2 linked regions of the Homo sapiens genome follow. The protein of the gene in region 1 purifies or fractionates together with the protein of each later gene. This does not show direct contact. Each region holds a gene or a part of one and is shown in the gene's direction. Other genes may lie near its edges. The genes, in order: PACS2 and WDR37.

Region 1 (14,864 bases):
CTGGAAACGTGCAGTGATCTCCGCTCTGGCTGTAAACAGGGAGAGGCTGTGGGCTTGCCCCTAGACCTGACTCCAGCACACAGCAGCAGAGCGGGGCCCAGGCTGGGGGTGTGGGGCAGGAACATTCCTTCATGGGGGCCCCAGAGAGCTGGAAAGTAATGTAGGTGTTGCACTGAAATGAGAGAATTGCTTTAATCTGAACTGAACGTGCTCGTAACACTTAGACCAGGAAGGATTTCCTTTTCTCAGGGCCTGAGAAAAATGACCTGACCAGCAGGGTTAGAGTTTTGAAGGACACGCCTAGGCACCTGCAAACTTCCCCTCCTGGAGGCTTTCTTCATTCATGGTGTCTTTTGTTTTTGGGTTTGTTTTGTTTTGTTTTGTTTTGTTTTGTTTTTGAGACACAGTCTTGCTCTGTCCCCCAGGCTGGAGTGCAGCGGCGCCATCTCGACTCAGTGCAACCTCTGCCTCCCAGGTTCAAGCGATTCTCCTGCCTCAGCCTCCCGATTAGCTGGGATTACAGGTGCATGCCACCATGCCCGGCTAATTTTTTGTATTTTTAGTAGAGATGGGGTTTCACCATGTTGGCCAGGATGGCCTCGATCTCCTGACCTCGTGATCTGCCCACCTCAACCTCCCAAAGTGCTGGGATTATAGGCATGAGCCACCACACCTGGCCTGTTTTTTGGGGGTTTTTTTTGAGACTGAGTCTCGCTGTGTCGCCCAGGCTGTAGTGCAATGGCACGATCTTGATGTACCGCAATCTCTACCTCCCGGGTTCAAGCAATTCTCCTGCCTCAGCCTCCCAAGTAGCTAGGATTACAGGCACCTGCCACTGCGCCCAGCTAATTTTTGTATTTTTAGTAGAGTCAGGGTTCCATCATGTTGGCCAGGCTCGTCTTGAATTCCTGACCTCAAATGATCCATCTGCCTTGGCCTCCCAAAGTGCTGGGATTACAGGCGTGAGCCACCGTGCCAAGCCCCATCGTGTTCTCATCTGTGGTGCTTTGACATCTTGGGGTCTCGTGGACCTAGAGAGGGACTCCCCTCCCAGGGTTAGCTAATTCCTAGAGACAGCTGACCACTTGCCTCTGAGTATGCCTTATTTACTTTATTTTTTCTTTTTTTCTTTTTTTTTTGAGGCAGGGTCTCACTCTGTCACCCAGGCTGGAGTGCAGTGGTATGATCATAGCTCACTGTCGTCTCAAACTGCTGGGCTCAAGAGATCCTTTGGCCCCAGCCTCCCAAAGTACTGAGATCCCAGGCTTGAGCCACCGTGCAGGCTGAGCATACCTTTGATATGCAGAGCAACCATCATGAGTCCCACCTGCCTCCTTTCATCAGGCTCCTGCATTCCTGAACACTAGCCCCCTGCCCTAAATCACCCCAAGGCCAGGTACCAGCTAGCTAGATACCACCCCCAAGCCCAGAGCCCACTGAAATGACCCAGTTCTAATTCTGCTCAGCTTGCCTCCTCTGCCTTGCCTGGAAAATGGCAATAAAGGCTCTTGCCCACCCTTTCCCTTCACCCCCTCCCTGTCCTGACTGGCCCTGGGTGCTTCCCCACGTGCCCCTCCTCCTGGGAACTGTGAGTAATAAACTCCTCTTTCAAAGGCGGTTGTCTCTGTGTCTGTCATCTTATCACATTTGATCAAAATAACTCCTGGGTACTCAATAGCCCTGTCCCCCCATGCAGCAGTCAGCAGGGGAAATGAGAAAGCAAGCTTCTATGGCCTTCTCACCTTCTCACCTGCTGCCTGGCCTTGGGCAAGTGCTTCAATCTCTCTAGGTTTCTACTTCCTCATCTGCATAACAGGGATAAGAATAGCCCACCCTAGCACTGCGGAGTATGATGGAGGACATGTGTCTGGTAGACAGACTGCTCAGAAGGCAAGTCCCTGTTCCTGTCTGTTCTCCGCAACTCGAGTGAGACTTGGTGAGGCTCCAGTCCACCTTCCACCACAGAAGTCAAGGGCCAGGCCAGGACAGTGGCTCACGCCTGTCATCCCAGCACTTTGGGAGGCAGAGGTGGGAGGATAGCTTGAGCCCAGGAGTTCGAGACCAGCCTGGGCAACAAAGTGAGATCCCTGTCTCTACAAAAAATTTAAAAATTAGCTGTGCGTGGTGGTGCGTGCCTCTAGTTCAGCTACTTGGGAGGCTGAGGCAGGAGAATCGCTTGAACCCAGGTGACTGAGGCTGCAGTGAGTTATGATCACACCACAGCACTCCAGCCTGGACCATAGAGTGAGACTCTGTCCCCCCCAAAAAAACAATTAGGCCGGGCACAGTGGCTCACACCTGTTATCCCAGCACTTTGGGAGGCTGAGGTGAGAGGATTGATTGAGCCCAGGTGTTTGAGACCAGCCTGGGAAATATGGCAAAACAGCATCTCTAACAAAAATACAAAAATTAGCCAGGTGTGGTGGTACATGCCTGTGGTCCCAGCTACTCGGGAGGCTGAAGAGGGAGGATTGCCTGAGCCCAGGAGACAGAAGTTGCAGTGAGCTGAGATGGCACCATTGTACTCCAGCCTGGGCACGACAGAGGCAGATTCTGTCTTTTTTTTTTTTTTTTTTTGAGATGGAGTCTTGCTCTGTCGTCCGGGCTGGAGTGCAGTGGTGCAATCTTGGCTCACTGCAACCTCCGCCTCCTGGGTTCAAGTGATTCTCCTGCCTCAGCCTTCTGAGTAGCTGGGATTACAGGTATGAGCCACTGTGCCCAGCTAAGTTTTGCAGTTTTAGTAGAGACAGGGTTTCACCATGTTGGCCAGGCTGGTCTGGAACTCCTGACTTCATGATCCGCCTGCCTCAGCCCCCCAAAGTGCTGGGATTACAGGCATGAGCCACTGTGCCCAGCCATGACTTTGTCTCTAAATAAATAAATAATTTTTTAAAACCCTTAGGGACCCAGCACAGTGGTTCACACTTGTAATCCCAGCACTTTGAGAGGCTGAGGCAGGAGGATGGTTTGAGTCCAGGAGATCTGGCCTACAGTGAGCCATGATGGCACCACTGCACTCCAGCCTGGTTGACAGAGCAAGACCCTGTCAAGAAAACAAAAGAAAAAAAAAGAAAAAGACAAACAAAACCTAACAAAACCAGAAATCCATCCTGCACGAAGAGCACTGAGGTTGAGTGTTGGTTGACACGTGTTGCGGTAATTGCTGTTCTGATGTCTGTGAATGTCCTTGGCTGATTTCTGTATTAGGGCCTGGGTGTTTTCCTTTCTTTTCTAATATTTAAGTTATGTCCTGGCTTATTGTGATGATATTCTATTGTGGGAAAGAAAGAAGTGTTAAAATTTATGCATCAAGGTCCCTCTTAATCTTGGGGCTCAGGATAACCACAGTCAAGAGGGGAGAGTTTTATTCCTGAATCCAGGTCATGCTGTGTTCAACTTTACACCCTGATTTGTCACACAATCACATATCTGAGAATTTCCCCATGTTGCTAAAACTGAGGCAGCGTTCCGTTTTGCTGGTTATTCCACATCCCATGGGGTGGATGTGCCAGGGCAAGTTTTGTCATTTCCCCTGGACTGGACATTCCTTTCTGTAGGTGTTGCTGTTTGAAATATCTCACACACCTGGACCTGTGTCCCTGTTGACATTTCCAGTGTCACCTGCAGGATGCCATGGGATACCCATGAGCCCAGGCAAATCTCCCAAGACGCTGCCAAGCCACTCTGCAGAGCTGCTCTGGGTCCTGCCCCAGGTGCTGTGTGAGGGAGCTGCGCTGCCTGCGCCCAACCCAGGAGGGGAGCAGCGTGCAGGACACCGAGGATGTCATCACGACCTTAGGTCTGTATTAGGTCTAGATTAGCCTGCATTAAGGAGAAGGTGGTGATGTGTGTCTTTTTTTTTTTTTTTTTTTTTTTTTTTTAGACGGAGTCTCACTCTCTTGCCCAGGCAGGAGTGCAGTGGCACAATCTCGGCTCACTGCAAGCTCCGCCTCCTGGATTCAAGCAATTCTCCTGTCTCAGCCTCCCGACTAGCTGGGACTACAGGCGCCCGCCACCACACCCGACTAATTTTTGTATTTTTAGTAGAGACGGGGTTTCAGTGTATTGGTCAGGCTAGTTTTGAACTCCTGACCTGGAGATCCACCCGCCTCGGCCTCCCAAAGTGCTGGGATTACAGGTATGAGCCACCGCACCCAGCCATGTGCATCTTTTTATAATTTACAATTCGTGATAGTAGTGACAACTGTCTCACTTATTCTTTTGTGAATCTTTTGTAGCTTCTCTAACCATTTTCCACTGGGAATTTTTTAGTGGTCTTATGGACTTGTATGATTTCCTTTGATATTAAGAATGTTACCCTAGTGAGCCAGGCACAGTGGCTCACGCCTGTAATCCCAGCACTTTGGGAGGTCGAGGCGGGCGGATCATGAGGTCAGGAGATCAAGACCATCCTGGCTAACACGGTGAAACCCCGTCTCTAATAAAAATACAAAAAATTAGCCAGGCGTGGTGGCAGGCGCCTGTAGTCCCCCCTACTCAGGAGGCTGAGGCAGGAGAATGGCATGAACCCGGGAGGCAGAGCTTGCAGTGAGCTGAGATGGCACCACTGCACTCCAGCCTGGGCGACAGACAGAGCGAGACTCTGTCTCAAAAAAAAAAAAAAAAAAAAAAGAATGTTACCCTAGTGAAACATTCAGTATTCTTACAAAGATCATCCTCAATAGTTTGTTGCGTTGGGTGAGGGTTCCCTTTGCACGTTTGGTTTTTTCAGGACGGGGCGCAGCCCCAGCCAGATGGCGCCCGGCTCTCCAGCCAGCGGCAGCTCACCCTGCTGTGGTTTGATTTTCCCTACACAATTAATACATGTTCATCATGGAGAAAATAGGAGATAAAGATAAGCAAAAAGGAGAAACCAAATCAATGGAATCCCCATCACACAGAGATACTTTCTTAACACTTTGGATTAATTTGTATCCTATCAATATTTTTCTATACCTGAAAATAGGTGTTTTATATGTATAATCACTAACATGTAAATACATACTGCACATGGACATGCATTTTCACATACATTTTTGTTTTCTTGAGACAGAGTTTCACTCTTGTCACCCAGGCTGGAGTGCAGTGGCACAATCTTGGCTCAATGGAACCTCTGCCTGCTGGGTTCAAGCGATTCTCCTGCCTCAGCCTCCCGAGTAGCTGGGATTACAGGCGCGCACCATCATGCCCCACTAATTTTTTGTATTTTTAGTAGAGATGGGGTTTCACTATGTTGGCCAGGATGGTCACAAACTCCTGACCTCAGGTGATCCACCCACTTCGGCCTCCCAAAGTGCTAAGATTACAGGCATGAGCCACTGTGCCCGGCCTTTTTATTTTTATTTTTTGAGATGGAGCCTGGCTCTGTCCCCCAGACTGGAGTGCAGTGGTGTGATCCTGGTTCACTGCAACCTCCACCTCCTGGGTTCAAGTGATTCTCCCACCTCAGCTTCCCAAGTCACTGGGATCACAGATGCGCACCACCATGCCCAGGTACGTTTTTGTATTTTTGTTAGAGATGGGACTTTGCCATATTGCCCAAGCTGGTCTTGAACTCCTGAGGTCACGGGATCTGTGCGCTTTGGCCTCCCAAAGTGCTGGGATTACAGGTGTGAGCCCCTGCGACTGGCCTGTTTTTAGCTACTTTTAACTCACTATTTCTGCCAGCTGTAGAATATTCTATCAGGTTCTATCATGGCTCACCTAACCCTGTTCTACTCTACAACCCCGGGGTTGATTCCAGGCCTCACTCTCAGCAGTTGAGCTGCTCTAAGGGTGACCGTGGGAACTGTCCACAGGTGCGGCTGCGGGTGCAGCGATCTCAGCGGTCTTAGAGCTCTTGGCCATCCCCCACATGGCTTCCCAGAAAATGCCTCCAGGAGGAGGGCCCTGCTGTACCTTTTTTGTGACCATTCCTCCTCAGCCTCAGTCATGGCCATGTGCTCCAACCATGGGAGTGGATGCGGCAGGGCCTGTCTAGGGGTTCGGCAGTTCTGTCCCTCTGCCATAGCATGGGCTGGGCAGGGACCTGGCCACGTGGGGCTGCTTCCTCAGCCCAGCTCCTGGCAGGAGAAGGAGTAGGGGCGCTGTGGGCTGGAGCCGCCAACTGACCAGTGCTGGCCCTGGAGGAGGCCCCTCCCCCACTCCCCGACTTCAGCAGGGCCTGCTGTGTGTCTGTGTCATCTTAGCCCAGGCTGAGGAGATGAATGCGTTTCCAAGCAGCCCATGGTCCTGGCGCCCGACTGGAAAAGCCTGAGCCTTCACCCTAGGTGGAGGGACCTAGCGAAGCCAGGCGGACAGAGGAAAGGCCTCGGCCCATCCTGTCCCATGACTGGGGGTTGGGGCTTCGTCTTTTTAATACCAATGGAATCCTAGCCAAGCATTCAGAACCTTGAAGCTTTAACTTCTTAAATAATAATAACTCCCACAACCTCCGGGGACCCCGGGCAGCACGTGGTAGGACCAGCTTTCAGGTTGTCCTCCTGAGACCCCAGGGCTCTGAAGGATCCTCTTCTTGGACCTCCTCCCCAACCGTGCCCAGCCACCCCAGTCATCCGAGAGGTTTGTCTCAAACCAAGTTCCTGCTTTAAAGAAAACGCTACCAGAGAAAGCACCTGTGCTCCAAACACGGGGGTGAGGGCTCACACCATGCCAGGGTCATAGCATGGGGAGGGATGCCTCCCAGCCTTCAGGGGATCTCCTCCTGTGACCCACAGCCCTCAAGAGAAGGACCAGCACAGCATCATTTTCCGACAGAGGAGGGCAGTGCAAATAACAAGTTCTGGCTAAAAAGTTACTCTGATCACCCAAGGGACATCTGTGCACTTGGAAAATACAGAAGACCACAGTCCCATCACCACCATCCCACCTTAAAAACAAACATAAACGTGGTCGCAGGCGTGACACATGGTGTGTTTCGTGTCCCTGCTTTCCTGCCTGGCAGAAGCATTGATGTAGACCCACCATACGGGTTCTTCGGGCCACTCTGGTACAGACTGTGTGGGTCATATCCCGACCCCTGGCAGCTGCATAACCTCACAGGCCGCCATCTCCTCTTTTGTCACTTGGGATGGGACAGAACTGTCACGTCCCTTAAGGGCTCACAACGGTGCCTGGCACAGAGGAGGGGCACCGCTCAATGGTGGCAGCTGGTGCCAAGCCCTGCTGTGCACGGCTTAGTCACCCCGCATCTCCTCACTTGACCCCCAGTTGTAGTCCCTGCCTGGGTTAGACGCTGGCATACACAGGCACCATGTGTCAGGCGGCCCATCCGTCTGACTGCAACTGCACGCTCGCCAGGTCCAGCAGCGCCGTACGCTCAGTTCTGGGGTCAATGGGTGCCTGTCTCCTGCCCTCCCATCACAGACAGCCTGTCCTCCTGGGGTATGGCTACCCCCTCTCTGGACATAGTCACTTCTCCCCCTACCCTGTCTCAAAGGTATGAGATCCACCGGCCCTCTGCCCGCCGAGCAGCTGGCCAAGGTCAGACAGACCCTCATGGCTCTCAGTGTACCACCTTAGAGGAGCCAGGGGCGCGTGGGAAACACAGAGTCCCTTGTTCTCTCCGAAGTGGGACCCTGACTTTAAGCAGTCGCAGCTGTTTGCAGTTCTAGATACAGGAGTTACAGCTGGAGGCTGAGCTCTCTCAACGGAGGAAGCAGCGGCATGAGGGCCTTTGCAGAAGGAGCTGACGGGGCACTGGGGTGGCAAGCCCCGTGGGCCAGGAAAGAAACCAGCTCCAGGTCAATTTGCTCGGGCTGGATTTGTTTCAGTAAAACTACTTGTAGACAAGACACAGGGCGAAGAGAAAAGCAACTGTAAACTAACTGTGAAACAAGGAAACAGAAGAGAGGCCAGAAAACCGTTTCCTAAATCTCGGCTTGGCATCTGGTGCTGGACCACAGCCGCTGCCAAACAGATGGGGGAAGCACCCTCCCTGAGCCCCAGAGCCTACACGTCGGGCCCCAGCGGCTCTAGCCATTGCCTCCTCTTTGCTTGGGTCCCCAAGTTCACTGTTAACCCCAGGGCCAGGAGCCAGCCTTGGCCCCAGACATTTGTTCTCCATTGTCCTGAGCACAACGCTGAAAAGCGGCGCTGAATAAGGATGCTGGGACGCAAAGAGGGCGCCCGGGGTCATCTGGAGCCCTGGAGGCTAAGCTCGGCAGCCTGGCGCCCCGAGTGGCTTCGAGTCCCCGCGACCGCCGCCAGGCCCGGCCACCTCCTTGCCACCTCCCTGCGTCCCGGGGAACCCACGCAGGGGGGCGCGAGGGAGGGGCTCGGGGACGGGCGGGGCCCGCACAGCCGGGCCAACCCAGCGGGGGTCGGCAGGAGACAAGGGGCGGCGAGGGCAGGGGGGCGGGGAGACTCGGGGCATGGCGGGGTGGAGGCGGGAAAGTGTCGAGGCCGGGGAATCCGCGCGTGGGGAGGTGGGCATCGCCAGGGCGACGATGAGCTTTCCTTAGGGGGCGGCGCCTGAAGCTGGCCGGGACCCGGTGGACCCCCACGACTCTCCCGGCCCTTGCCCGCGGCTCCCGGGGGGCGGGGCGGGGCGCCCCGGGCGGGGTCTGTGCGCAGGCGCGTGAGTGCGCGCTCTCGCGCACCGGCGGGCGGGGACGCCCCGTGAGGCGCCGCCGGAGGAAGCGCGCGCGCACCTCACTTCCGGCGCGCGCTGCGCCGGCGGCGATTGGACCCGAGGCGGCGAGCTGGCGCCCCGCCCAGCCAATCGGCGGCGCCGGCGCGGGTCGGAGGGCGCCGGGCGCGCGCGGGGCGGCCGGGGGCGCGCGGGGCGCGGGCGGGGCGCCGGGCGGGGCGGGGCGGAGCGGCCGCAGCTCGTCGCCGCCCGCGGGCCTGTCCGACGCCGGGGCCCGGCCCGTCCCCTCCGCCGCCCGGCAGCCATGTGACCGCGCCGCCGCCCTCCGCGCGCCCGGCCCGCCCGCCGCGCGTCCGCGGCCCGGCCGCAGCCCCAGGCCGCCGAGGGAGCGGCGGGGCCGGCGCCATGGCCGAGCGAGGCCGCCTCGGCCTCCCCGGCGCGCCCGGCGCGCTCAACACGCCCGTGCCCATGAACCTGTTCGCCACCTGGGAGGTGGACGGCTCCAGCCCCAGCTGCGTGCCCAGGTACGCGCCGCCCGCCGCGCTTTGTTCCCGCCGGGCACCTGCTGGGGGTGTCCTGGCCGCGGCCTCTGCGCGCCCCATCCCCGGCCCGGGTCCCCCAGCGGAGCCCAGGTCGCCCCCCGCGCCCCCGCCCGCCGGTTCGACGCGTGCAGCCGCCGCCCCCCCGCAGCTCCGGCAAGCGCGGCCCCAGCCCCCCAGGTCCCGAGCACCGGGGGCCGCGCTCAGCTTCCGAGGACCCGGTGCTGCTCAGACCCGGCGGGACCTTGGGGCTCCCGGGCGGCGCTCACCTGGCTCGCCGCAACCGCACCTGCACACCTGCCTCAATGCGGTGCCGGCCGGGGTGACGAGGGTGCTTCCTCTCTCGGGTACCACACGCTTCCTTTCGCGTTCGGCGACACTGTCAGACCTCGGCCTGGGAGCGACCCCCGGCGCACGGGGCGCGCAGGACTCGGTTGTATCCTCCGTCCAGCGCGCGGTGGAGATGCCCTGTCCTGCGGGGCGGGGTCGTCCTCGCGGGTACCTGGTTGGCGCTGTCTCTCATTTAGAGGCGTCGCCAAGCCAGTACTGCTATTTGCGCCTCCCAGTTGATCTTGCCATTGCGGAAGACTGGCTGTTCTGCACTTGGTAGGGGGGCGCCCGGTCGCCCAGCGGTAACGATTGGACAGGGTTTACCCTCCGGCCATAGCCCAGCCTTCCTTGGACTTGCAGCTTCCCTGAGTCTCCTGCTCAGTTTGAAACTTTTGTAATTTCTTCGTGACTTGGTAGTTCCTGCTCAGGAAGCTCCCAGGCTAAGGAGGAGAGAGACACGCTCTCCGGAAAAGTTCTGGTTCTAGAATAGACAGCAGGCGAGAAGAGGAGGCGGTTGGGGGTAGTGAGAGTTCTCCCTGGGGAGATGGGAGGGTGAGCGGACCTTCCAGGCACTGGAAGTGGCCAGTATGCCTGGAGGGGACCCCACGTGGCATTGAGTTGTTCCACCCCTAGTCAGCTGCAGGTGGGCCTCTCCGTGCTTTCCTGTGGCTCCCACAGCCTGCATCTCTGAGCGTGGTGTTGGAGTTGCAGAGCCGCTGGACAGTGGGGCTTGCCCTCCTGGAGCGCAGGGTTGGGACCTCGGGGCTTTGGTTTTGCTGAGTGGACAGGAAGGATGCCCACCCGGCACGACTCTTGCACCTGGCGGGGCCTCCCGAAGGACCCAGTGTCCATATGAGACCTAAGGGTCAGCATTTGCCCAAGGTCTGGGGCCGAGCACTGCAGATGTGCCTGCTTGCCTCTCTTCTGGGAAGTCTCTGGGGCCTCAAAGCCAAAGCCAGGAGCATCTCCCCAGGCCTGGCTGCTTCTCCATTCCAGGTCTTGGCGATTGCCCCAATGTCAGGTCCCACAGCCCCACAGCCCTTCTCCTGTCTGCCCCTCTGAGTCACTGCCTCACCCACAGCCCCAGAACCTTCATGCGGGCTGTTGGCGCTCCCCTGCTCCAGCACTGCAGCACATAGCCTGCCCTTGCTGAACCTCTGCAGCAGCTTCCTGGGGCCCTCCGAATGAGCAGCAAAGTCTTTAACCCAAGGGAGGTGGGGGCGTGTGGCAGGAGGGGCCGGGGGCCTTATCAGCCCCCCTGTGGAGCTGTGCTCTATTCTCCAGGGGTCTAGAAAGCCCACTCTGGTGTCTGTGGGGAGGGTATGGGTAGGGCGGGTTTCGAGAAGCCTGGTTAGGACAGGCGGGGGTAGATGGGGGCACCTGGGCTGGGTAGCACTAAGTGCTGGGGGGGGTCCCGAGCTCTGGCCTGGACAGGGTTGGGAGGAAGGGTAGGCAGGAGGACAGGATTTGTTCTGTTGGTGTGGAGTTAATGGGCGGAGGAGTTAATGGGCGGAGGGGCGAGTGGCGCAGCTGACCAGGTGGGCAGATGCAGTTTGTTCGTAGGACATGCTCAGCCTCATAATGAGCTCCTGCCCTTACCTGTCCTGGAACAGGGCCCCTCATAGGCGGGCTTGCCCCTAGCTTTGCTTTGTGCTTGTGCCGCCTGTCCGTGCATCCTCGGACAGTCTGCTACTTAGTTTTGCTTTGTTCCTCCTGAGTTCTTCTGTACTCCTCACTTTTGCCCAGCCATGAAGCTTCTGGGCTGCGTGTGTGCTGATGCCTTTCGGCGTGTTCACTGCTGCGTACTATTCACTGGCGTGACAGTACCTCGGCTTTGCTTCTGTCAAGGGACCTTGGCTTGTTTCCAGTTTTTTGGTTAATTACAAGCCCCGTGCTGCTGTGGACATCGTGTGCCAGTCTTCTGCGTGTGTCTTTCTGGATGGGCAGGGCCTGTCTTAAGCATGTACCGCCAGCTACCAGGATTTATGGTGGGGGTGTGCACGCACTCAGCGTTACTGCTGGGCAGTTTTCCAGAGTGGTTGTGCCTGCTCCGGCCCCCACTGACAGGGACGAGAGTCCCCACTGCTCCACATTTGTGCCAACACTCATTTGACTTAATTTTTGCCAGTCTGGTGGGTGTGAAGTGGTATCGTGGTTTTAACTTGAATTTCTCTGATTACTAATTTAGGCCATTTGTACTTCCTTGTCAGTGAAATTCCTGTTCCTTTGCCAGTTTTTTTTTCTCTTTTTTTCTGCTTGAGTTTCAGCAGTTTCTTTAGAGATAGTCATCCTTTCTCGGCTGTGTTGAGGATGTCCCCGTCCAGTTATGAGCGAGTCTTTGCTCTCTGAGCAGCCTCTGGGTGCACTCCCCGTGTCAGCCTGGTGGAGTGTGCACATTGACTGTTTGCCAGGCTGGGGTGCTGGTCTCGTTTCGGTTCTCCTTCTGGGAGGCAGCCGGAGAAGTCTGCCCCCGGGAGCTTGAACTGGGCATGCTGGGCTGTTGTTGGGGAGGCCTGTGCTCCGGGTTTCCTTGCGACGCTTTTGGCTCAGCACTGTTACACACGGTGCTCCTAGGTGGTCCACGGGGTATGCGTCAGTGCCTGTCTGTGGCCTCTGCCTCCTGGGTTCCCAGAGTGTCCTCCTGGTGCCCATGTCCCTGAGCGCCCCCACCTGCTCTTCAGCAAGGGCTGGGCTGCTTTGTACCTTGCCCTTCCCACTTGATTGTTTTTTCGGTTGATGTTTATTAATTTGTTTTTATTTATGTATTTTGTTGTTGTTGTTGCAGAGACAGGGTCTCCCTATGTTGCCCAGACTGGTCTTGAACTCCTGGGCTCAAGTGATCCTCTCACCTCGGCCTCCCGAAGTGCTGAGATTACAGGTATGAGCCCCTGGGCCTGGCCATCTGTTTGGTTTTTAGAGACAGAGCCTCACTTTGTGGCCCAGACTGGGGTGCAGTGGCTTGATCATGGCTCATTGTAACCCCTAAAACCTGGGCTCAAGCAGTCCTCCCACATCAGCTTCCTGAGCAGCTGGGACTACAGGTGTACACCACCATGTCTGTCTAATTTTTTTGTTTTGTTTTGTTTTTTTGAGACAGAGTCTCACTCTGTCACCAGGCTGGAGTGCAGTGGTGCAATCTCGGCTCACTGCAACCTCCGCCTCCCTGTTTCGATTTTCCTGCCTCAGCCTCCCAAGTAGCTAGGACTACAGGCGCCTGCCAGCATGCCCGGCTAATTTTTGTATTTTTATTTTATTTATTTATTTATTTATTTTTATTTTATTTTATTTTATTTTGAGATGGAGTCTCGCTCTGTCACCCAGGCTGGAGTGCAGTGGTGCTGTCTCGGCTCACTGCAAGCTCCGCCTCCTGGGTTCACACCATTCTCCTGCCTCAGCCTCCCGAGTAGCTGGGACTACAGGCGCCCGCCACCACGCCCGGCTAATTTTTTTTATATTTTTAGTAGAGATGGGGTTTCACCGTGTTAGCCAGGATGGTCTCAATTTTCTGACCTCGTGATCCGCCCGCCTCAGCCTCCCAAAGTGTTGGGATTACAGGCGTGAGCCACCACGCCCTGCCTATTTTATTTTTTTGAGAAGCTCTGTCGCCCAGGCTGGAGTGCAGTGGCACGATCTCAGCTCACTACAACCTCCACTTCCCGGGTTCAAGCAATTCTCCTGCCTCAGCCTCCTGAGTAGTTGGGACTACAGGCGTGCACCACCACGCCCAGCTAATTTCTGTATTTTTAGTAGAGACAGGGTTTCACCATGTTGGCCAGGATGGTCTCGATCTCTTGACCTCGTGATCCGCCCGCCTTGGCCTCTGAAAGTGCTGGGATTACAGGCGTGAGCCACCACGCCCAGCCAGAATTATCTTTTTAAGTTTCACACAAAGCCACATTTGGTTTATAATTGGAAGTTCTTTAACTCTGTAGAGCAGGTTGGGGAGAATTGACGTTTGTGTGGTACTGAGTCTTCTCATTCATGATCAAGCTATTTACTTAGGTCTTGAATGTATTTTGAGAGTTTTACAAGATTCTGCTGTCATGCATATCCTTTGTTACATTTATTCCTAGATGCTTGTATTTTAGAAGTCATAGTAAAAGTCAGCTTTTTATTATGTTTGTTGCTAACATATAGAAATTCAGTTGATTTTTCAAAGAAATCAGTGATTTTACTATTTTTAACCTAGTAACTTATCTATAGATTATTTTGTATTTTCAAAATGTATGTTTTGTCTTTTGCAAAAGACAAAGTTGTTTCTTTTCAATCCTCATACTTTTCTTTCTTTCTCTTGCCTGACTGTGCCAGTTGTCATAGTACAGTGTTGAATATGGTTGGTTGCGTGGATTACCCGTGTTCTGTCTTGACCTTAAGGAAGGTTTCCAGTGTTTTACCTTTAAGGACGATGTTTGCTGCAACTTTTTGTGGATAGCCTTTATGCACTTAAAAAGTCTCATCCTATTCATGACTTGCAAAGGCTTTTTAAAGAAATCATTATGAGTGGATGTTGAATATAATCAAGTACTTTCATTAAGAGGATTATATAATTTTTATCTTTTCATTACTATTGTGGTAAATTACATAAATTGATTTTATTTCTTTTCTTTTCTTTTTGAGACAGAGTCTCGCTCTGTTACCAGGCTGGAGTGCAGTGGCGTGATCTCAGCTCACTGCAACCTCTGCCTCCCAGGTTCAAGCAATTCCCCTGCCTCAGCCTCCCAAGTAGCTGGGACTACAGGTGTGCACCACCACGCCCAGCGAATTTTTGTATTTTTAGTAGAGACGGGGTTTCACCGTGTTGGCCAGGAGGGTCTCGATCTCCTGACCTTGTTATCCGTCCACCTCAGCCTCCCAAAGTGCTGGGATTACAGGCGTGAGCCACCATGCCTGGCCGTAAATTGATTTTCTAACATTAACCTATTCCTGGAAAAATACTAGTTTAAGCATGTTGTATTACCCTTTTTAAAAATTGGTGGATATATATTTATTTATGTATTTATTTTTTGAGACAGGGTCTTGCTCTTTTGCCTAGGCTGGAGTGCAGTGGTGTGACCATGGCTCAAGCAATCCTCCTGCCTCAGCCTCCTGAGTAGCTGAGACTACAGGTGCATGCCACTGGCCTGGCTAATTTTAAATTTTTTGTAGAGATGGGGTCTCACTATGTTGCTCAGGCTGGTCTCCAACTCCTGGCCTCAAGTGATCCTCTCACCTTGGCCTCTCAAAGAGCTGGGACTCCAGGTGTGAGCCTCCCTACCTGCCCACATTGGTGGGTTTAGATGATAGTATCTTGTTTAGGACTTCTGCATGTGTGTCTGGGGTCTATGTGCTTCCTTTCTTCTGTAGTCCTTAGCAGATTTTGGCGCTAAGATTTCCTTGTGAAATGAAATGAGTACTGCCTCTTTTGC
Region 2 (15,269 bases), on another chromosome or scaffold:
AATGGTGCAGTCTCCGCTCACAGCAACCTCCGCCGCCCGGGTTCAGGCAATTGTCCCGTCTCAGCCTCCCAAGTAGCTGGAATTACAGGCATGCGCCACCACGCCCGGCTTATTTCGTATTTTTAGTAGAGACGGGTTTCCGCATGTTGGTCAGGCTGGTCTGGAACTCCTGACCTCAAGTGATCCACCTGGCTCAGCTTACCGAAGTGCTGAGATTCCGGGTGTGAGCCACCGCGCCTAGCCCTCTAAACTTTTAAATAATCGTGAAATGTATGCGCAGCTGAAGCGAATTCAGCTATTTCCTCTACCTTTTGTGTGGAATTTAAAATACTGAACTTGTGAGATGAACCTGGTGGGCACCAGTTCTCAAACTTCTTGGTCACAGGACGCTTGCACTCTCTTAAAATGTACTGAGGACACCTAAAAGCTTTTGCTCACTGTTGTTTACTACTGCTATTTACTAACATAGAAATTAAACATATTAAAATATTCACTTAAAAAACACACGACACTAACATAAGTTATATTTTTATTAAAAATCTTTTCCAGACAAAAAACAGACTTTGATTTTGTTTTATGTGTTGACAGATCTCTTTCATGTCTGGCTTCACACAGATAAGAAAATCTGGCCTCCCGCATGCGCAGCAAGTCCTCACTGCTGTCAGTGCGTTCTTGGGAATCAGGACTTTTAAGTGAAACAACGTATAGCAAAACCAATTTTACCAGAGGCTAAAAAATAAGGATTAAGTTCCTAAAGCATACTTCTGGCCAAGGAAAAAAAAAATCACTAAGCTTCTAAAGGCCAAAGTATTCTAATATTAAACATTGAAATAAATGTGAGCTATACATACATTTAAGAAAGATGAATAAAAAGATAATTATTACTTAATTATTCCAGTTCTGGGTCATGTGTAGCTGAAGCCTGTTTCAGTAGCTCAGGGCACAAAGAGGGAACCAGCCCTGGACAGGACGCCATTCCATCACAGGGCCACTCACACACCCACACTCAGACTGGGACAGTGAAGACACACCAGTTCACCTCACGTGCACACCTCTGGGATGTGGCAAGAACTGCAGCACCCAGAGAAAACCTATGCAGGTGTGGCGAGAACACGTAAACACCACAAAGACAGTGCCCCTGGCTGGGAGTCTTTTTCTCATCAATGTTACAAAGAAATGAATGAGCACCTGCTGTATGCAGTTTGAAAATTGAGAAGTATTTTTTAATAGCCTTTTCAAATTATCTTGGTTATTCTTTTTCGATACTACTACCCCAAAACACGAGTGGTGGATTTTCCAATTACTATTTGGAATTTGAAACCACTTCAATGGACATTTTGTACTTGTTACATTAAAACTCATTATTTTTGACTGTACCTCGAATGCCTATTTTCCTGTGCGTGATGTTGAAATGTCATGCATTGGTCATTTGGAAAATACTGATTTACTGAATTAAACAGATCTTCCAAATGCTAAAACATTTCATTATTCAATATCAATCACATTGTTAATATCACTAGTAATCTCATCAGAAAAGTTTTTAAGTATTGGGAAGCTAAAGTATTGTAGCACTGGCTTCCACATAAAGTCACCAAGTTCTTGATGGTTTTAAGTTTGTTTTTTATTTGAATTTTTGCATGAAAATTCCAACATTATTGGCAACAAGTACTGAGAATTATGTTCCTTGAAGTGGCACGAACATATTTATTTTCACGAAAATGTCTGCCAAATATCTAGGTTTGAATACCTCAGTTTATCTGTCAGTTCTTTCCAGTAAAAGCGGTATTTCATGAAAAAAGCAGCTAGTTAGTTCAGCTTACAACTCAAACGTTCCCACAAGTTCTTTTCCTGGAGACAACAATCATAATTCAGCATGTAGCAGAAGTGCTTTATGTGCATTTCCCATTTTGTTATAGAGAATATTAGATGAGTACTGAATGGTCGAGATGATTAAAGTTAATATTTTTTACTGCTAACCATCAGCTGAGCCTTCAATGAGTCATAATCTTTTTGCTGGTGGAGGGTTTTGCCTCAATGTTGATGGCTGTTGATCAAGGTGGTGCTTGAAAGTTGGGGTGGCTGTTGCAGTTTCTTAAAATAAGACAATAATGAAATTTGTCACGTTGATTGACAATTCTTTTCATGAAAGATTTTTTTTAAACCACAGGAAAACTTTTTTTTGAGACAGAGTCTCGTTCTTTCGCCCAGGCTGAAGTGCAGTGGTGCGATCTTGGCTCACTGTAACCTCCACCTCCTGGGTTCAAGCAATTCTCCTACCTCAGCCTCATGAGTAGCTGGCACTATGGGCGTGTGCCACCATGCCCGGCTAATTTTTGTATTATTAGTAGAGCTTGGGTTTCACCATGTTGGCCAGGCTGGTCTTGAACTCCTGACCTTGTGATCTGCCCACCTTGGCCTCTCAAAATGCTGGGATTATAGGCATGAGCCACCGCACCCGGCCAGGAAAACTTCCAAAGTTAGAGTCAATCCTCTCAAACCCTGCTGCTACTTCATAAACTAAGTCTATGGAGTATTCTGAATCCTTTGTTATCATTTCAACAGTGTTCACATCTTCACCAGGATTAGGTTCCATCTCAAGAGACCACTTTCTTTGTTCATCCACAAGAAGCAACTGCTTATCCATTCATGTTTTATTATGCTAGTGCAGTGATTCAGTTACATCTTCGGGCAGCCATAGCCTTACAAAATGTATTTCTTAAATAATGAGACTTGAAAGTCAAAATGACTTCTTGAGCTATGGGCTGCAAAAGGGATGTTGTGTTAGCAGGCATGAAATCAACATGAATCTCCTTGTATATCTCCATCAGAGCTCTTGGGTGAACAGGAGCACTGTAAATCAGCAGTAATATTTTGAAACGAAATCTTTTTTTTTTCCTGAGCAGTAGGTCTCAACAACAGTGGGCTGACAATATTTAGTAAACCACACTGTGTAAGTAGATGTGCTGTCATCTAGGCTTTGTTGTTCTATCTACACAGCAGAGGCAGACTAGAATTAGCATAACGCTTAAGGACTCTAGGATTTTCAGAATGATAAATGAGCACTGGCTTCAACATAAAGTCATCAGCTGCACTAGCCCCCTAGCAAGGGTCAGCCTGTCCTTTGGAGCTCTGAAGCCAGGCTTTGACTTCTCCTCTCTAGTTATGACAGTCCTGGGCGGCATCTTTTCCCAAAATAAGGTTGTTTCAACTCCAATGAAAACCTATTGTTTAGCAAAGCCGTCTTCATCAGTGATCTTAGGTAGATCTCCTAGATGACTTGCTGCTTTATCTTGCACTTGCACATTTTTTTTTTTGAGATGGAGTCTCACTCTGTTACCCAGGAGTGTGGTGGTGTGATCTTGGCTTACAGCAACCTCCAACTCCTGGGTTCAAGTGATCCTCCTGCCTTAGCCTCCTGAGTAGCTGGGACTACAGGCGTGTGCCACCACACCCAGTTAATTTTTGTATTTTTAGTGGAGGCAGGGTTTCACCATGTTGGCCAGGCTGGTCTTGAACTCCTCACCTCAAGGGATCCACTTGCATTGGCCTCCCAAAGTGCTGGAATTACAGGCATAAGCCACCATGCCTGGCCTATCTTGCACTTTTGTATTATAGAGACAGCTTCTTTCCTTCAACCTCATGAACCAACCTCTGATAGCTTCAGATTTTTCTTCTGTAGCTTCCTTACCTCTCTCAGCCTTCAGAAAACTGAAGAGAGTTAGGGCCTTACTCTGGATTAGGCTTTATCAGAATATTGTGGCTGGTTTAATCTATACAGACCACTCAGAGTTTCTCCATATCAGCAATAAAGCTGTTTTATTTTCTTACCATTTGTGTATTCACTGTAGGAGCACTTCAAATTTCCTTCAAGAACTTTTCCTTTGCATTCACGACTTAGCTGTTTCAACATGCCTTCCTCACCATGCTTAATCATTAATCATTTCTAGTTTTGATTTAAAGTAAGAGATGTGCAACTCATTCTTTTATGAAACAGTAGCCATTTTAGGGCTATTAATTGCCTGATTTTTTTTTTTTTTTGAGTCAGGGTCTTGCTTTGCTGCCCATGCTGAAGTGCAGTGGCGTGATCACAGCTCACTGCAGCCTCGAACTCCTAGGCTCAAGCAATCCTCCTGCTTCAGTCTCCCAAGTAGCTGGGACTACAGGCATGAGCCACCACCATGCCTGGCCCCTAATTTCAGTATTGCTGTGTCTCAAGGATAGGGAGGTCTGAGCAGAAGGAGAGAGATAGGGAGGCAGCTGGTCAGTGCAGTGGTCAGAACACATAAAACATTTATCGACTCAGTTTGCTGTCTTATATAGGGGTGGTTCATGGTGCCCCCCAAGCAATTATGACAGTAATATCAAAGATCACTAATCACAGATCACTATAACTGATTTAATAACGGAAACATTCCAAGAATTACCAAAATGTGAGAGAGACATGAAGTGAGCACATACTGTTAGAAAGATGGTGCTGACAGACTTGCTCCATGCAGGGCTGCCACAAACCTCCACTTTGTAAGAAACATATGATACCTGTGAAGTGCAATAAAGTGATACACATGAAAACAGTTGTGCCTGTTACATGACATATATACACACATATATATAACTTGAGAATTTAGGAAGCGACATGTCAAACAGCTTATAACACTATAGTGTACTATCCAAGTGTTTGAGACACAGTTAAAATAATCAGTAATGAGGACAATGACAGAATACCTAGTAAATCTTAATTCCCTATCAAACCATGCGCAAAAATGAGTCTTAGTAAATTCAGCATTGTTGCCCTATGTCAGGGACAAAGTACATGTATTTTGCATAGATGGACATGTGACAAAATAGAAATTGGTTTTCTGAGACAGGATTCTCCACAGCTTCTGCAGGAGGGAGAATGTAACTGGATACCAGGATTGCAATCATAACCTTTTATAATTTCGGCTAGTTTTGTGTCTTTTAAAAAAATTACATTGGATAGTTATTTCAGGATACAGTGTGTTATGGGTTAAATTGTGTCCCCCTTTCAAATTCATGTGTTAAAGACCTCACTTCCAGTATTTTATAATGTGACCTTATTTGGAAACAGGGTTGTTGTGGATATGATTAGTTAACATGAGGTCATATTAAAGTAGCGTCTACTGTACTCCAATATGACTGATGTCCTCATAAAAAGAACGCTAAGTGTGCAGACAGACACGGACATGGAAAACGTCATGTGAAGACTGGCGGGGGCATGCTGCCACAAGCCAAGGAATGCCTAGACGCTGAGATGCATTAACAGGCTCCCATCACAGCTCTCAGAAGGAATCAACCCTGCCAATACCTTGATTTGGGACTTCCAGTCAGACCTCTGACAATAAATTTGTTTAAGCTGCCTAGTTTGCAGTATTTTGTTCCTGCAGCCCTAGCACATCAACAGTGAAAAGAATATGGATTCTGATGCCAGCCTTTAGTCTTTGCCCTGCTGCACGATTATTTTTGACTTTTGACGAGTAATTTCCACATTCTCATGCTTAAAATTCAATTTAGAATAACTTTTACTTTATTGGATTCCTTTGGGGATTAAATTAGTTACAAAAGATGTAAAGCGACTGATCCTCAAAATGATTTCTTTCCCTTGTTTTGTGACATGTCATGCTCTCAGTTATTTTCAGTGACTTTTATGGAATCCTAAATATATCAACTTAAAAAATTACATTAGCGATATTCTTGGTGTTACCTGACTGTGGTGCGGTCCAGAAAAATAAAACCACCTGTTAGAATGCGGGTTAATTAGATGGGACACTGCGATTTACAAAGCTTTCTATTTGCTGCCATGCCCAGTACAATGTCTTTGCATACTAGGTACTAAATAAAATTATGTTACTTAAATGTCACAACCTCTAAAAGTTTAAAAAATGACTTCTCTAAAAACTCAAATATTTTTTTCCTTGGCGTTCCTCTTACAGAATTGTTTTTAGTGATAAAGTTTTATTAATATACTTAATGCAGAAATAACTTCACTTCTTTTTTTTTTTTGGTAATCTGGATCCCCTAAATAGAATGCTAAATTTGTTTCTTGTGCAACAAACAAGTTACCACTTCTGACTCTTCATCTTGAGCTTCCTTATTTTTTTTTGGAGACGGAGGCTCGCTCTGTCCCAGGCTGGAGTGCAGAGGCGCGATCTCGGCTCACTGCAACCTCCGCCTCCCGGGTTCAAGCGATTCTCCTGCCTCAGCCTTCCGAGTAGCAGGGGTTACAGGCGCGCGCCGCCACGCCCGGCTAGTTTTTGTATTTTTAGTAAAGACAGGGTTTCACCATGTTGGCCAGGCTGGTCTCGACCTCCTAATCTCGTGATACGTCGGCCTCGGCCTCCCAAAGTGTTGGGATTACAGGCGTGAGCCACCGCGCCTGGCCTTGAGCTTCCTTTTTAAAGGAAGGAGCAGGAATGTTAACCTACACAGAAAAAAAAAATGCTTTCACGCTCTTGATTTACTCTAGGTGGGCTTCAAATGCGCGGTTAGCGCTTTCTGTAGAGCGTTGAGACGGCTGTTTACGTAAAGACCATCATGCGACGTTTCCAACCTAGATTCTAAGAAAAAAGCGGCCCAAGTCCCACCTTTCGCAGGGAACAGCTGATTCTGTTTTTCCTTCCCAGCCAATGGTGATCAAAAGCTTCAGGACGCTGGTGAGTCACTGCGGAGGAGCCGAACACTGACCGCGCCGTCCCCGCCAGGCTCCCGCGCGGCCGGCACCGCGGCCCTGAGCGCAGGCGGCCCCGGGTCTCAGGCCTCAGGCGGACCGCGCCCCGGGCTCGCAGCCCTCCCGCCCCGGCTGCCGGGCTACGGGGCAGATGGACTCGGAGCGCCCCGCCGGTGAGTAGCTACGACCCCCGAGGCCACCTCCCGCGAACCGCTCGGCGGCAGGAGTACGTGACCAAGGGTGGGGGCGTTGGCCCAGCAGCCGAAGGGGTCTTCAGCGCGCCCAGACCCCTCGGGGCTGCGGGGCGGAAGCCGGGGCGTGACTTCCGGCGCCGCCGGGTGTGGGGCGGAGGTGTGGGGCGGCTTCCGGAGAACCCAGCGGCGCGGGACTGGGGCGGGACTTCCGGCGACACCGGAAGTGCATTAGCGCCAGGTTGGGGTTGTGGGGTCGCGTCAGTGCGGAGACAGCGGTGTCCTGCGCGTCTTCGGGTCAGTACGGGGGGCCGCGTCGTAGGGACTCACTGGCGGTGCGCGACCTGGGCTGGCTCCGGGGGTGGCGGGCGCAGCTGCTGTGACAGGTGAGTGCCGCCATCTTCCTACCTGTCAGGCGCCGAGTCGTTCCCCGGATGCCCCGAAGAGGAGTCGGGACACTGCAGGGCTCAAGGGGGTGCAGGGGCAGTCGGGGCATAGTGGCGGATGGGGTGCAGGTGGGCTTGGAATGCAGAGGGTCCGTGGTGGTGCAGGAGGGGTCGGGTCCCTGGAGGACCCGTGGCGGTGCAGGAAGGGCCGTGGTGCAGAAGGGTTCAGGGTGCAAGAGAAGTCGGGGCGCAGGAGTAGTCCGTGGCGGTGCCAGAGGGACCAGGGTGCGGGAGGGATGGGGGCCCGGGGCGGTGCAGAAGATGTCGGAGTCCAGGAAGAGTCGGGGCGCTGGAGGGGTTGGGGGCAGAAGGGTTCGGCCCGGGGTCTCTCCCCGCCCCCTTTGCTTCGGCCTGGGCATCCCGGGGAAGTGCGTCTCCAGGGAAGCACTTGGGAGGCCCTTCAGAGAGGAGAATGGCCTTTCTTCTCTCCAAAGAGTGGGGATGGTCGGCTTCAAGAAGGGTGGTGAGTGTGGAGTGACGGATGCTGAAGTGATTAACACAGCGCCATGATATTGTTCCCCTTTTGAAGACTTCCTTTTCCTTCCCTTCCCCCTGAAAGCAGCCACCGCTGGAGGGAAACATTTTAAGACAGCTGTTCACCGGAATAACACAAGAGCAACAATAATAATGTACTCATTTACTAAACCAAGTTGAATAAATACATTTTTCCAGGTTGTGAGTGAAAATAGCTTAAGGTCTGCCAGGTTTTTAGAGATTTTGTCATTTAACTTAAACGCTAAAACATTCGTCCCTTGAAGCGGATACCATTATAGAAAAGTGTTAATTGCTTGGAAGTTTCATTTATTGAAGTTCAAGTGTTTTTCTCTTAAATTCAGTATGTTGGCCTGTGAGTTACGGTCATAAAAGTATTGCAGGAATTATTTACCTCTGAATGAGAAAGCTCAAGATAGTTATATCTCCAGGAACTTTCTTCGTCTTCTGAACTTCCCCCAACCCCAGCAGACACACACACTGTTCTGGTTACTTTCCTGATCAAATTCGAGTCTTTCAAAATAGCTTTTGATATGTCCCAGGAGTTAAACACGGTATGTAAATATGAACTCACCAATGTGGAACAAATGGAGTGATCTGTTATCCCCTGGGTTTAGACGCTGCCTTTCTATTAATACTGCTCACAGGAGACAGAGTAGGGACTCGTGTGCACTGGCCACGTCTCAACAGCAGTGTGACCTTGGGCAAGGCCTTCCTAAGTCCCGACTCCCTGTCCTCTAACATGGTGTTCATATCAGCCTCATTTTCTTACTGGGAAGGTTACGTTATGTAATATATGCCAGCCATTTTTGCAAAGTGCTGTATACAGGAGATCTTGAGTGAGTGTGTTTCCCTCCTCCTCTTTTTGGGTAGCTATGTTAGGCTGTTCACTTTGGGCATTTGCCCTGAACTAAAATCCCTAAGTCCCTTTCCCCAAGGTGAAACTAAGATAGAGTTTTCATATTTATCCTGTCTTATTCTTTTCAGGGAAAAGATTTTACATCTGTTGAATTTCATCCTTGGTTTAAAGTTGTTCTTTTAACTACTGAGATCTTTTGAAAATCTTGATGGCTATTTATCTGATTAATGGTATTTCCTAATTGATTGTCATCCACAGAATTGATGGTGTATGTATTCCATGCCTTCATTTCGTCAATGACAAAACATTTTAAGCAGGTTAATACTGATGACAGATTTCTGAGGTTGCCTGTAGAGACCATTCTCTTCCTCGATATTGCTCAGAAGTTGAATTTGGTGTCTCAGCCCACTAGGAATTCGTCTAACAGTGTTATTACGATAAAATGTTACTACAAACTTGATTAAACTTCTGGTGGAAATTCCATCACATTTTATGCAATTTTCAATTTATTTCTCCAATTTATTTTTAATGCCACATGGACATTATATTCCTTAACCATTCTTTTGCATGTGATTAACATTTGTGAAATTAACCACTTAAGCAAGTGTTTTTGCTTTGATGAAAGAAAAATGTTTAAAATCCTACTGGATATGAAACTGAAAGTAATGTTTTGTGTTTTTTGTTTCAAATGAAAGTGTAAATTAAGAATTTGTTGGCAGGGCGTGGTGGCTCATGCCTGTAATCCCAGCACTTTGGGAAGCCGAGGTGGGCAGATCACCTGAGGTCAGCAGTCCAAGACCACCCTGGCCAACATGGTGAAGTCCCGTCTCTACTAAAAATACAAAAATCAGCTGGGCATGGTGGCGGGCACTTGTAGTCCCAGCTACTCAGGAGGCTGAAGCAGGAGAATCACTTGAACTCAGGAGGCAGAAGTTGCGGTTAGCCGAGATCACGCCACTGCCCTCCAGCCTGGGGAGACAGAGCGAGATTCTGTGTCAAAAAGAAAAGAATTTGTCGTATTGCTGTTTCAAGCTACTTTGGTTATGTTATCTGCCTTCCTCAAATTATACACACTTAGGAGAATGATAATTTCTATAGCTACAAATTAATTAATATTGGAAATATTGAAAAGAATCTGGCCAGGCGCAGTGGCTCATGCCTGTAATCCCAGCACTTTGGGAGGCTGGGTCAGGTGAATCATGAGGTCAGGAGTTCAAGACCAGCCTGGCCAGGATGGTGAAACCCCGTATCTACTGAAAATACAAAAAATTAGCCAGGCGTGGTGGTGGGTGCTTGTAACCCCAACTACTCAGGAGGCTGAGGCAGAGAATTGGTTGAACCCGGGAGGTGGAGGTTGCAGTGGGTCGAGATCGCGCCACTGCACTCCAACCTGGGCGACAGAGCGAGACTCTGTCTCAAAAAATATATATATAAAAGAATCTTTTGAGAAAGAGCAGAAAGCTAAGTGTTCATTGATGCTGTTTAATATTACAGCATTTCTGTCACGCAGGCTGGAGTGCAGCGGCATGATCTCAGCTCACCACTGCCTCCACCTCCCAGGGTGGAGCAATTCTCGTGCCTCAGCCTCCAGGGTAGATGGGAGGCGTGTACCATCACGCCCAGCTGATTTTTGTATTTTAGTAGAGACGGGACTTCACCATGTTGGCCAGGCTGGTCTTAAACTCCTGACCTCAGGTGATCCGCCTGCCTGGGCCTCCCAAAAGGCTGGGATTACGGGCATGAGCCATCATGCCTGGCCCAATATTACAGCATTTCTAAAGATGAGGAATTCAGCTTGCTAACACAGTGTGTTTATGGGTTTCATTAATTAGTCGAATGTTTGGCCAGTGCCTGCTGTGTGTAGAGCACTGTGCTGCATCACAGCTGTGTGCCTGTTGTTCTGACTGCTTACAAGCAGTGGGGTGTATTACGTACACGGCAACATATACTAAGGGCAGGTGAACTGGACAGACTAAATGAGTCAGGAGTTCAGAAGGAGCGTTTATTCTGTTAAATCCATGGTAGGATAAAGAGATTGAATTTTTAGAGGGGACTATTTATAGTTTCTTGAAAATAATGTTTTATTGAAAACCAGAAGGACATTTAATCTCCATAAGCCTTCTTTGTAATATGGTAATCTGTCCAATAATATTGGGTAAATGTGAATATTTTGAAGGAAAATAATTACGTTTTGGAATCTCAGGTTTCTCTTTGCTTGTATTTAGGTAAAACAGTGCATAGAGGTTAAAGAAGGTTATATTTGGAGTGAAGAAGTTTGTTTTTTCTCTTTACAGTTCTATAATCAGTTTATTAGTGTTTAGTCTGTTAAATACAATCGGGTGCCACATAACAAATGATGTTTTGGTCAACAACAGACCTCATGTAAGATGGTGGTCCCATAAGATTGTAATACTCTATTTTTACTGTACCTTTTCTATGTGTAGATATGTTTAGGTACACAAATAGATACCATTGTGTTACAGTTGTCTGCAGTATTCAGTACAGTAACATGCTGTGCAGGGTTGTAGGCTAGGAGCAGCAGGCTGGGCCATCTAGCCTAGGTGTGGAGTAGGCTGTGCACCTAGCTTTGTGTAAGTGTACTCTGCGATGTTCCCACAGTGACGAAATCACGTAACGATGCATCTCTCAGAACCTGTCCCCATCCTTAAGTGATGTATGACTGTGTTGAAAGGCTCTTAATTGGATTTGGGAACTCTGTCTCATAGGGATGTTATGAGGATTAGTGACTCTTTGTATTTATTGATCCATTTGAGCCTTACAGCAATTCTTTGTAGTAGCTCTTCAGCCTCTGGTAGATCTGCCAGTCCACCAACTTTCTTCCAGTATCTCTCCATTAATTCTTTCTGTTTTCACTTCCCTTCCTGTCTATTTTAGATTCCATGGTATACCATTTCAGTAGTTTTACAAACACCTGCCACTTCCTTGTCCCTCTTCCCATGATACCAACCTGAAAACCCCCTAAACTGGTGATTAAACATTTAAATAAGATTTATGCTACGCCGGTTGAGCATCCTAATCCAAAAATTCAAAATCCATAACATGACACAAGTGGAAATTTCCACACCTTACCTTGTGACAGACAGGTTGTAGTCAAAATGTGGGTGCGCAACATAGTTTATTCAGGATCCCCTAGGGCAAAATAAAATTACCTTCAGGAGGCCTGCTGTGGTGGCTCAGGCCAGTAATCCCAGCATTTTGGGAGGCCGAGCTGGGCAGACCACTTGAGGCCAGGAGTTCGAAACCACCTTGCCAACATGGTGAAACCCCGTCTCTCTTAAAAATACAAAAATTAGCTGGGCATGGTGTTGGGTGCCTGTAATTCCAGCTACTTGGGAGGCTGAGGCAGGAGAATTGCTGGAACCTGGGAGATGGAGGTTGCAGTGAACCGAGGTTAACACCACTGCACTCCAGCCTGGGCAACAGTGGAGACGTCATCTCAAAAAAAAAAAAAAATTACCTTCAGGCTACGTGCATGAGGTATACATGAAACATAAATGAACTTTGAGTTTAGCCTTGGGTCCCATCCCTAGGATATCTTACTATGTATATGCGGATATTCCAAAATCTGAAAGCATCTGAATTCTGAAACACTTCTGGTCTTGAGCTTTTTTTTTTTTGGGGGGGCCAAGGACTGAGTTTCCATGGAGGATGTGGTGTGAAAGGAAGGAAGTGGTGATAGGACCAATACAGACACTGGGAAAAAATGTGGAGGGTGTGAATACAGAGATGATAAGATTACTCCAGTATGAAAAAATCTGTATTTGGTGCCAAGTTCCAGGGAGGTGATTGTAGGAAATGCATACATTTGGTTGTAGTTGATCAGCAGAAAAAGATTGCCGGCGGTATTGACTATTTTGTGAAGTGGCGAAGAAAGCAAGCTAAACCAAAGAGAACACCATGCAACTTACGGAGAGGCTGGAATAGCCAGTGAGATAAAATCAGTGATCCAAAACTTATAATTTTGATGAGAAAGGAAAGGTGATATTGTAATCTCTGCATTTTTGGTAACGAACTTGTAGAATGTCTGGAATGCATCAGAATGTTTCTACAGATGAAGTTCTTAAGAGAGGGAAGGGAAACCCTTTGCTGGTTTTATTTGCTTCATTTAACTGAAGATAGAGTCTCCCTTTTTCTCTGAGGCCATATCAGGACAGCTTTCACAGGCTTTTGATGTGGTTTCTTTTTTTCCTTTACAAAACATACTCCATAAACTACAAAGTAACTGTTTTATGTTGTAAAGCAAGACTTACTTCTCCTTTAAAAATAGGCCTACACATATGCAATTTGAGAATAAAAGATGATTCTTGGCTTTCTGCTTGCGGAAAGATGGAGACTTATTTTTCCTTATTCCTCCCATGAAGTACATCTAAAAACACTGGACATATATAAAACAAATGTAAGAGTGGGCCGGGTGCAGTGGCTCACGCCTGTAATCCAAGCACTTTGGGAGGCTGAGGCGGGCAGATCACAAGGTCACAAGTTAGAGACCACTCTGGTCAATATGGTGAAACCTTGTCTCCGCTAAAAATACAATAATTAGCCAGATGTGCTGTTGGGCACCTGTAGTCCCAGCTACTTGGGAGGCTGAGGTAGGAGAATTGCTTGAACCCAGGAGGTGGAGGTTGCAGTGAGCCAAGATTGTGCCATTGCACTCCAGCCTGGGGAACAGAGCGACACTCTGTTAAAAAAAAAAAAAAAGAGACTGAAAGATGGAGAAAAGAAGGTAGACTTCCTTCGTACATTGGGACCACAGAAATGACACCAAACTTAGTTCTGTGAGTTTTCTTTTTGCCTCATGTATCTCATATGTTGTGCTGGATAAGCTAGCAGCGCAGGTATAAAAGGACTCAGACAAAACAAGGCCCAAGAAAAGCCTGCTCTCTGTGTCTGAAAGACCAGGAAAGGGGCAGCCTACAAATCACAGAACTTTTCGATGGTAAGTACTTTCCTCCAGCTAAATATCACAGGAAACCCTGCAGCACCACCCTCACCCTGCTAATCAGAGAACTTTTCGGCGGTAAGTACTTTCCTCCAGCTAAATATCACAGGAAACCCTGCAGCACCACCCTCACCCTGCTAATCAGAGGCTGAGCAGGTACTTCAGATTCCCACTCATGACAAGCTGGGATGAGATGCTCCTCTCTGCAGGGTTGCTGTCAGAGAAGACTGGCTGAGGAGTTGGGGTTTTACTTCTGCTGGGTGGTGACAGAGCACAGCCTCCTTTCTGCTAGGGTATCATAAGAGGGACCTTGCAAAACTCAGGAACTTTACTGCTGCCCTGTGGTCATGAGGCCACCCCCCTGTGGTGTGGGGGAGACTGTATAGGGAGCAGCACGGAGGCAGCCCTGATTCAGCCTTGGTGGTGGGAGTGGAAGTTCGGCAGGAGGCTGAACTTTCCTTCTCATGCAGGGGTCCGTGGAGGCTGAGTGGGAATCTCAACTTCCACCTCACCGTCCACATCCACCTGGCAGAGGCCTGCTCTAACAGAAGACTTACATCAGATCCTGAGTCTGATGTCAGGATTTCAATGGAAAATCACTCATAGGAAAATCTCAACCTCAGTAAGAAAAGACCACTGATGCCAACGTAGAGATGACACAGAGTTTAGAATTATTTGACAAGGACCTTAAAGCAGCGATTGTAGAAATGCTTCAATAACCAATTAACATTCGAGACAAACGACAAATAGCCTCAGGAAGAAAATACAGGATGTAAAAAAGAAACACAAAATTTCAAAAGTGAAAAATAGAATATGTGAAATAAATTCAGTGGATGGCTTAGCAGCAGAAAGGAGAGGACAGACAAAAGAAGCTGTCAATTTGAAGATAGAACAATAGAAGTTACCCAATCTGAACAGCAGAGAGAAAATAGACTGGAAAAAAGTGAGCAGAGCCTCAGGGGCCCGTGGGACTTTAACAGAAGATGCAACATCTGTCATCAGAGGTCTAGAAAGAGAGAAGGACGGGGTGGGGGGAAAACGTGTCTGAAGAAATCACTGCTGTATGTTTCCTAAACTTGGCAAGCCATACACCTTCAGACGTAAGAAGCAGCATAAACCCAGAGAAGATAAACACAAAGATGCTAAGACACATCCAGGCCAACTTCTGAAAACTGAAGACAGAAGCATAGTAAGAGAGATACCACTTGACCTGTAGTGGGAAACAATTTGAGTGACAATGGATCTTTTTTTTTTTTTTTTTTTTTTTTTTTTTTGAGATGGAATCTTGCTCTGTCACCCAGGCTGGAGTGCAGTGGTGTGATCTCAGCTCACTACAACCTCTGCCTCCCAGGTTCAAGCAGTTCTGCCCTAGCCTCCCAAGTAGCTGGGATTACAGGCATGCCACATCACGCCTGGCTAGTTTTGTATTTTTAGTAGAGACGGGGTTTCACCATGTTAGCCAGGCTGGTCTTGAACTCCTGACCTCAGGTGATCTGCCCGCCTCGGCCTCCCTCACGCTTGCTGGAATTACAGTCATGAGCCACTGTGCCTGGCCTGACAGTGGATCTTATCAGAAATTGTGGAGGGCATAAGGAAGTGGCAGGACATTTTTTTCAGGTGCTGAAGGAAAAGGACTATC

What was found.
Region 2: the proteins of PACS2 (region 1) and WDR37 purify together in Homo sapiens (affinity purification with mass spectrometry; 4 studies listed by BioGRID and IntAct, with this or other methods). This does not show direct contact.

What each region holds. Positions count from the first base shown.
Region 1 is NC_000014.9:105,305,924-105,320,787, forward strand, and holds the start of PACS2 (phosphofurin acidic cluster sorting protein 2), read left to right. Parts: upstream 1-8,824; 5' UTR 8,825-8,995; coding exon 8,996-9,114; intron 9,115-9,398; exon of another isoform or gene 9,399-9,666; intron 9,667-14,864. UniProt on the Homo sapiens protein: Multifunctional sorting protein that controls the endoplasmic reticulum (ER)-mitochondria communication, including the apposition of mitochondria with the ER and ER homeostasis.
Region 2 is NC_000010.11:1,049,710-1,064,978, forward strand, and holds the start of WDR37 (WD repeat-containing protein 37), read left to right. Parts: upstream 1-6,675; 5' UTR 6,676-7,259; intron 7,260-15,269. UniProt on the Homo sapiens protein: Required for normal ER Ca2+ handling in lymphocytes. Together with PACS1, it plays an essential role in stabilizing peripheral lymphocyte populations.